2 separate regions of the Homo sapiens genome follow, and region 1 is linked to region 2. Evidence: fine-mapped expression QTL. A gene starts in region 2. The other region holds a variant in brackets. All regions are shown on one strand. Distances are between the middles of the regions. Region 1 holds the start of LCE1D (late cornified envelope 1D). Region 2 holds the start of SMCP (sperm mitochondria associated cysteine rich protein).

The links. PIP is the estimated chance that this variant, and not a neighbour inherited with it, causes the effect. A credible set is the group of variants that fine-mapping cannot tell apart.
Region 1: its variant is the best candidate, but not a certain one, in a credible set for the expression of SMCP in cerebellum (GTEx, PIP 0.64).

The regions. Positions count from the first base shown.
Region 1 is chr1:152,793,930-152,798,323 of GRCh38, forward strand. It overlaps LCE1D (late cornified envelope 1D), which reads left to right and starts at 2,792. Exons shown (of 2, transcript NM_178352.3): 1 at 2,792-2,842; 2 at 3,844-4,252. The coding sequence starts at 3,866. The coding sequence ends at 4,210. The variant G/A (reference allele first, on the strand shown) is at 1,798.
Region 2 is chr1:152,876,583-152,880,976 of GRCh38, forward strand. It overlaps SMCP (sperm mitochondria associated cysteine rich protein), which reads left to right and starts at 1,740. Exons shown (of 2, transcript NM_030663.3): 1 at 1,740-1,864. RefSeq lists enhancers at 3,656-3,735, 3,866-3,925, 4,286-4,394.

The sequences.
Region 1 (4,394 bases), 83 kb before region 2:
AAAAATATTTTTAAAATATACTATTTAAATAGAATAGAATTTTCTTCTAGACTTTAATAGTATTTTCTCATCACTGTAATTGTTTAAAGGGTTGTAGATATGGAAAGAACAAAACAAAGATTACTAACTTAACTTGTTACTGGTTATAGAACACATACAAAAAATTATTCCATTTGAATTATTTCTGGTTAGATCGCAATAGTATTCACTCACATCCCATGAGACGGTGAATTTTTGACTACCTAAAAGAGAAAAACCTTGACAAATAGGAAATTTCAGAAAGTCAGTGCTTTGCTGGACAAGATATCTTATTTGACCTAATAGCTAAGCCATGATATCTCATAGCCAAGATTCAAGTTCCAATCTTCCTAATACAACTATGTTGCTGACTCAACACCTACATCTGAGTTATGTCAGTTGAGAGCTTGGGTGTTGCCCTGCATGAAGACAGAGGCATGGACCAGATGGTATCCCAGCCCTATCATCCTAGATACCAGGAGTTGAACTTCTGAGTAGACCTGCCATTGTGACGACCTGGGAACCAATGTCCTGACCACTCCCCCATTACTAAGCCCTTTGGAACAATCTGAGCAGGAGAACAAATGTCATACCCAGGAGGGATGGTGTCAGACCTCTCAGGGTGATGTGGCCCACACACCTCACTGAGCCTGTCTCAGAGTGTGTCTCCTATGAGGGTGGCCTGAGTCATAAGGAATAGCTGTTTATAAACTGTAAATCAATGCTAATACCAATGAGAGCATTTAAAAGTCATTAAATATCCATTGTGCACATAGCTCTGTGTTGAAAAACGGAGGTAAGAAGTATGAAACACCCAAGGCAGGCCATCAAAGCATTTACTGTTATCTCATTAGAGTGATATGCCACATGAAGGATAAATAAAAAAGTGGGATTGAGCCACACTGTCCTGGAAGGGTAGAGGCCACGGCATGCACTGCAGGGAGAAGCATAATCAAAGTACAGAATATAATCCAGTTCAGTTTCAGAACATTTCTGAGAGTAGATGACAAAGGCTTAAACTAAAGGGAGAACACAGAGTCTTATTTCACTGAAGGAATTTGGACATTTACCCTTATACAGTGTGCAATCATGAACAAGACTTTACTAATGATTTAGTGTTAATTATGTACAGGGATGGAAGATGTTTTCTTGGATGTCATAAAAGAACAGAATCAAAGACACACTACAGTGTTTGGAGATACTACGTTATCACAGGAGTCTGGGCAGCTGTAATAATTGATGCTCTGAGACAGGTGGTACACACACATATACATCTCTCTCAATATGTATGCTCTGTATATGTGTTTATAAATATACATGTATCTCCACCACGTTTTGGTTAGGGTCACCATGTCCATTTTGACCTAGATATCATTCCCAAGTTCTGGGCATATCCAGAGTCTGTCAGGGGCTGGGAAGAAGAGGACTTGTCCCTCATATGGTTTAATCTGGCTTTTCTTGGTCTTCCTCTGAAGAAATAGTTTAATTTGTGGATAACCTTGCAGTCATGGCTGTCTTAGTGACTAGTGTGTCCTAGAATGAACAGCAGCCCATTTCATTAATATCCTAAAAATGTATAAATTCAGAACACTCCATTCATATAAATCCTGTGGACATGTAGAAAGCTAGTGATTCTAGTGGAGAGAGAGGAGAGGGGCTTCCAAAGTAGCAGCATAAACACATTCACATTAAATATTAAGGACTCTTGTTCTTAAAAGGCACCCGTCCCCTTATGGTCCAGGACGGGGTTCTGCCAGCCATTTGACCCCACATGGAAGC[G/A]TAGACTTATAATGTCTCACAACCATGTCTCTTTTCTTCCTGTTTCTCATCTGTGACCATCATCCGGTGCTCCCAGTGTGAACCCAGAAAAGTCCAAATTCTCACACCAATACAAAGAGCAGAGCTGCTGCTTCTTGTTTCTCTAATGAGCTGCTTCCTTGTTCACATCTCAGTGCTGACACATCAAGGACCCCACCAGAAGAAAAGGGCTATTTAAAAGCAAACAGATCACCAAACAGCCAGACTCACTCTCATTAGAAAAAAGCTGTGCTTCGTTTGTTAAACAAAGATCAGTATCTTCATTCTGTATTCAGCAAGTTATGAATGTTTCACTTATTCAGAGCCTACAATGTTTCAGTCTCTCTGTCAGGCACATTTTCTCTTTTTTGTGTTACTTTATTGACTTTCACAACCAACTAATTCTTCTGTAACTAATTCTTTTTCATCTTCCAGCTTTATGGTTTAAAAAATGGTACAGGCTAAATAGTTTCAACAGTCCCATCTCGCAGGGCCTGGTCCTGGGCCGGGTTATACTTCCAGGGTTTTACTTGTGTAGATGTCTACACTGCACCCACAGCCACACAGTTTGGTGGTGCACAGGGACAGAAATAAACATGCATGGAAACCTCAGGGATTAGTACTTCAACTTCAACCCAGGCTGCACGGAGCATCAGGTACTTCGGAAGAGACAGAAATGAGATAGGTCCTAAGTTCTAAGACTGAGAACTGAGAGGCTCTCAGGGCAAGCAGCCTTCAAGTGAATGAGGTAGGTGATGGTAGGAGTCATCCTGGAACCCCGTTTCAAGTAGGCACTTTCCTACCTGGGAGTGGCTGCCTTGAGCCTGGGGAGAGAGGCAGGTGAGGAGCTGTCAGTCACCAACCATCACAAGACCCACGTGGGTGTCAGAAGGAAGGTCCTCTCATGCCCAGGCCCTGTCTCACAGCTGGGGCAGAGCCCAGGCCAGGATAAAAGGGCTCAGGGCCAGACCACCCCATCCACTCACCTCCTGAGGTGCTAAAGAACCCTGTGCTGCCTGTGACTCCGGTAAGAACAGAGCAGGGATGCTCAGAACAGAGCAGGAGGGAAGGAGGGGCAGGGCCTCCGGGGCTAGGGCCATGTTGTCAGAGGTGGAGAGTTTAGAAAAGACTGAAGGGGCGGGGGCCAAAAGGGGTCTGGCACTAACTGGGAGCAGGAAGGAAAAGAGGAAAAGAGCTGGCGGGCTGTGCCATGTGCCTTTGAACTCTAGAGGAAACAAACTGCTCTGGGATGAGGTGGGTGTTCCAGAGTGGGAACTTTGAAGCACAGAGACCTGCTCCACTCTGGCAGCCCACAGGAGGGAAGCCCACCTCTGAAGATACAACCCTGTCTCTGCCTGCAAGGGAAGAACTGGAGCTGTGGACATGGGACTAAAGACTCTTTGGGGTTTATGAACCCCACATTTTCATGGGTCTGAGATTTGTTCACAAACTTCCCAGCTTGGTTAGGACACACCAAGCCTGAGACCCACCGTGTCATCCCATCAGCCTGAGCAGGTGGTGAGTGAGGAAGTCTGAGCTCCAACCTGAGATCAGGGGGTCAGGGTTCAAGTACTAGTCTGCAGAAACTGCTAAGTTTATCTGTCTCTATTGAAGTGAGTTTACTGACCTAGTAGTCTCCAAGATCCTGCACAATGCTGACCTTCCAAAGTAAAATCGTCTTGCAAATTATGACCAGAGAGAATGACTGCTTCTTCTCCTTTAAAAATAATTTTCTCTTAAATGACTCATAAATTAGACAATTTCAGTCTTAAGATATATTTGTAATAATTTCTTCCTCCACTGACAACACATCAGAATCTTAGATGCATTTTGCAATATTGTTTAGTCTTAGTTTACAGTTGTCTGACATCCAAAGATATCTTGAAAAAGATGATGTGAGATTTTGAGGAAATTATTGGAAATAAAACTACTGAAGATGATGCTTTTAAACTTGAGAGGTGCTAAGAGTGTCACAGGGGCAGAGGTGGCCTCTGCCTGGGTCTGACTTGTTATTTGACTCTCCCTCAGCTCCTGAACACCCACCACCGAGATGTCCTGCCAGCAGAGCCAGCAGCAGTGCCAGCCCCCTCCCAAGTGCACTCCCAAGTGCACTCCCAAGTGCCCCGCCCCTAAATGTCCCCCTAAGTGCCCTCCAGTCTCTTCCTGCTGCAGTGTCAGCTCCGGAGGCTGCTGTGGCTCCAGCTCTGGGGGCGGCTGTGGCTCCAACTCTGGGGGCTGCTGCAGCTCTGGGGGTGGTGGCTGCTGCCTGAGCCACCACAGGCGCCACAGGTCCCACCGTCGCAGACCCCAGAGCTCTGACTGCTGCAGCCAGCCCTCGGGGGGCTCCAGCTGCTGCGGTGGGGGCAGCAGCCAGCACTCTGGAGGCTGCTGCTGAAGTGGACCTTGACTTCCTCTTCCTTCTGATTCTGCCTGAATAGCTGAGAGGTTCCAGCAAAAGCTTGAAGTCTTGCCTGGAGAATCCCTCTGCTCTGGTGTCAGGAAACCCAAAATCTTTCTCCTTAATGGCATTTAGAGACTTTCTTCTGCAGATCCATGGCTGCCCTGGGAACTCCAAAGCA
Region 2 (4,394 bases):
GATCAAAATTTCATATTTGTTGCCAGACTGTCATAGAAAAGCCAGTGTCTCATTGATCTTCTGGTTTGCATTCCTTTAGTTATGAATAAGCATTTCTTCATAGATTTGTTGGCCATTTCCACCTCTCTCTCTCACTCTACCTCTCTCTCCCTCTCCGTACTCTTCCTAGAAAGAACTTAATTCTTATAGATTAAGGCTTTGGTCCCAACTACAATGTTAGAGACTTTGGGAGATGTGAATAAGAGTAGACATTTTACTGAGAATAAATTTTAGAGATAACTATAAGCATGAAGACCTGAAGAAGACAAGTAAAAGAGAAATACTTGAATAGGCTATTATAGAATGAAAAGCACAATTCACATACTTCCCAAGAGTGCTACCCTTTGGCCGAGGTGGTTCTGTCCTGGACTTCAGACTTTAAAGAGTCCTTCTCTGGCTCTCCTCCAGCCATGACCCACCCCCATAGGATGATTCAATAGGTCCAGGGTACAGGCCCAGAGCTGCTGTCTCTCTCACTCCAGCTATCCAGGACCCCAGAAATCTCTGTCAACTGGCCCTGAGATCACCTTTATGTGTCTATCCTCTTGAAGACTCAAACAGCCAATACTGTGCTCACTTCTAGGTCTCAATGACCAAGAGAGGGGCAGTTTGAGAGATCCATGTATGAAAAGAACATGGACGGTATGGACTAGGATATTTACACTCATGCACGCCCGAGGTCCCTCGTGACACAAGATGAAGCCAGGGAGTAGGAAGAGAACCAGGGGTGAACCACAGGGGTCAGAAGCCTCTGTTTGTGCTCTTGCCTGGTGTCCTACAAATGTTTATGGCAGGCATGCTTCCCAGAAGAACAGAATTTCCTAGTCACTGTCCTCAAAGAGGCCATGCTACAGGAAGAAAAGGAAAGAGTAAACATAATGAAATGCTTCTCTCTTATCATTATTTTAGTCAATTCACTATTCAATTGATTCAGTTTCAGAATCTTTTATGTGCCAATTGCTCAGCCAGACACTGGGAATATCAAAGTGAATAAAATAGGGTCCTGGCCCCTAAGGCATCCCAGTTTCTCCCCTGTTTAAAACCTTTCAGTGGTTCCCATTGTCCTCAGGATAAAGTCCAAACTCTTTTTCTTATGGCATAAAGGTCCTCACCAACACAGCCTTACCTACCTAGGTAGGTGAATCTCCCCCTTCTCCTTACTCCCCACTCTGCTCCAGCCACACTGAGCTTTTCCACCAAATAGCCTATACTTTCACATTTCTGGATCTGAAAATGTCCTCCCAGACACACCCCTATGTCCAACTTCCTATTTCCAATTTCCAAGTCTCAGCTTAAATATCACTCCCTCCAGGAAGCATATCTGACCCCCAAACCTGACCCCTGTGCTTATCCTACCATCATTATTATCACATGGTATTGTTGGCTATTGACTTGCCTCCATATTGAATTAGATCTTTGAGAATGGGAACTACATCCCATTGAGCTACACTTCACTTTTTAGGACAGAGCCTGGTAGATAGGAGACAATCAATACAGATTTGTGTTTTAGGTTATTGCATGCTTATGGGTTAGCTAGGGAGCTTTCTTTTTATCTTTCAGGAAAGAAACCAAAGAGACAGACTCTCCAGCAGGCAGGGGGCGCCAGTGAGTGAGCTAGGCATAGAGTCTTGTGGAGAGAATTATGGTGTCATAGAGGCTTAGAATCTTGGCATTAGCAGGGAAGGGAACCCATCTGGTTCAGAAGGCTTTGGCTTCTGATAGTCATGGACTCACTAGGCTGCTGAGGAAGATCAATAATACCTACTGGAATCAGTCATGAGAAGTCAAGCATGGAAATTGTGAATTGTGTGTGTGGCCAGACCAGGTAACACAGAGAAACATTGTCTTTTGGGTCCTCTCTCCATGGCTTTTTCATGTGTTCATTAGTTCATTACGTATTTACCTACTGAGACCCATGCAATGCCATTCAGTGTGTTGGATGAGAGGATTCCAGGATTCATCCTATCTTTCAGGAAAAAGCTCCTGCTTCTATTTAAGAGGAAGACATGGGAGCCACTGGGGGTGGGGATAGTGAGAATGCCTGTGTTTATGGAACTAACAGACCACAAAAGTGAGACAATTGGGAAAATAATAACCACTATAAAAATGTAATGGGAAGTACAGGGGATCCAAGAAAGCCTTTCAGGGAGATGGAGGTTTTGGGTTAAGGAAGTTTTCCTCGAGGAGTGATGTGTAAGCAGAGACTTCAGGTTTGAACGATATTCAGTGAGCATGTGGGGACAGAGACCCAGGAAGGGTGGTTTAAGCTGGGAAAGAGCACATTCAAAGACCTGGAAAGAGGTGAGAAAATTCAGCAGGTGTCTGCTCTGAGCCAGTCTGGTGCCTGAGGGAACAGTGTTTGGACATGAGGCTGGGCCTGTGGGCAGAGGGAGAAGGTGCCTTGCCAGAGCCCTCCTGGTGGTTTGGGCTCTGTATCAATCCTCTCTGAATAGAGCAATAAGAGCTAGGAAGATGGCCCTGGCCTTGCACCACAAGTGTTTGACATGATTAGGCAGATTTCCTGAGGCAGGCTGTGCACAGCATGGTTGGGAAGGAAGGGAAATGGAGCTTGGAGAGAATATTTATTTATTTGTTTGTTTCTTTTTATTTATTTATTGAGATGGAGTCTCACTCTGTCACCCAGGCTGGAGTGCAGTGGTGAGGTCTCGGCTCACTGTAACTTCTACCTCCCGGATTCAAGTGATTCTCCTGCCTCAGCTTCCCAAGTAGCTGGTATTACAGGTGCACGCCACCACACCCAGCTAATTTTTGTATTTTCAGTAGAGATGGAGTTTTGCCATGTTGGCCAGGCTGGTCTCAAACTCCTGACCTCAAGTGATTCACCCGTCCCAGCCTCCCAAAGCGCTGGGACAACAGGTGTGAGCCATTGTGCCCGGCCAAGGAGAGAATCTTAAGAAGAAACTCTTGCAGGAGGCAGAGGGGTCCAGGAGGCAGGTTTGTTGGACAGGAGCCAGGGTTCTGAAAGTGGAGGATATAGATACTATTCACCAGGCAGAAGGAAGACAGTGGAGACAGCACTGGCTCAGAGGGGCAGGACCTGCATCCATGGGGGTGAGGTTGCAGAAGGACTTGATGTTGCCCTCCCTATGCTACAGTCAACAAGACTGGTTTCCAACCTGCTGTCCTTCTCTGATATTGCACAACCTCCACATTCAGGACCTATTCCCAGGATCTCACTATGGGGGACATGCTTGGAGTGGGGACATTGGTGGGACTGGTGAGGCAAGCCCCTGGACCTGGGCTCCAGGTGCCTCTGATGCCTCTGCACCTCTGATCACTGGAATGAGAATTGCTTCTGTAGAAACAGCTCAGTCTGGACTTGTAAAGATGGACACTAACAAACTGGACTTCCAAGTGGTGATGAGACTCTGCACTTTGGTCAATTCAGGGCACTGACCTTCAGAGTAGAGAAAGGTAAACCAGAGACAAAAGACAGAAAGGTAGAGACAGAATGAAGACCAGAGAATGATAGAGAGGCAGAGAGGAAAAAAAAATAGCAAAAGGCAAAAATAAACACAGAGAGGAACAACAGAAAATAAAAACAGAAGGGGCTCACTCCTCCCTCGTCCCTCTCAAAACCTAGTCTTAGGTCTGACCTCTAAGGGAGCAGATTCAAACAACAAGGAGATACGGACAGATACTGGGCTCCCTGCATACCCCGGCACACCCAAATTCACCACTGTACAGCTGCAGGGGCACCCAAGTGTGTGCTTGTGTGTGCGTGTGGACACACACACACACTTCCTGTCAAACAGCTTTGAACACTGCAAAGGTGGTAGAGAACATGGCCCTGTACTCTCTCACCTCTTCCCTATTTTTATACTGGTCTGTCTCCGTCTTATTTCCATTTTTGGTGTGCCTCTCCATTGCTCACCTCTCTCCTTCCTGTTCTCTCTCGGGCAAGTCAAGGCATCGCAGGGCCTGTATCTGCCACCTCAGCCTCTTTGCAGCTTCCTCTGACCTAGAAGGAGCAATAGGGTGACTTGTCCCCACCCCCATCCTTTAGGAGTCTTTGCTCTAGTGTCTTCCTCTTAAATGGAAGCAGGGGCCTTTTCCTGAAAGATAGGATGAATCCAGGAATAACTGGCAGAGATAGAGTCATGACTGAATTAAAGCCAACATCCTAACCCAAGTCACTCTCCCCTTTTTAGGTGGGAACTGCCCTTGACCCAGTTCAGGCTGCAGCCATATAGCCAGGGACTTAGGATCATGAAAGGTTTATACCAGGTGGCAGGGCCTTAAGAGATAACTCTTCCCTCCCAATCTTCTCTCACCCTAATGCTGTAGTTCAGGAGATTCAAACATAGGGGTCCTTATAAGAGGTAGCACTGTGC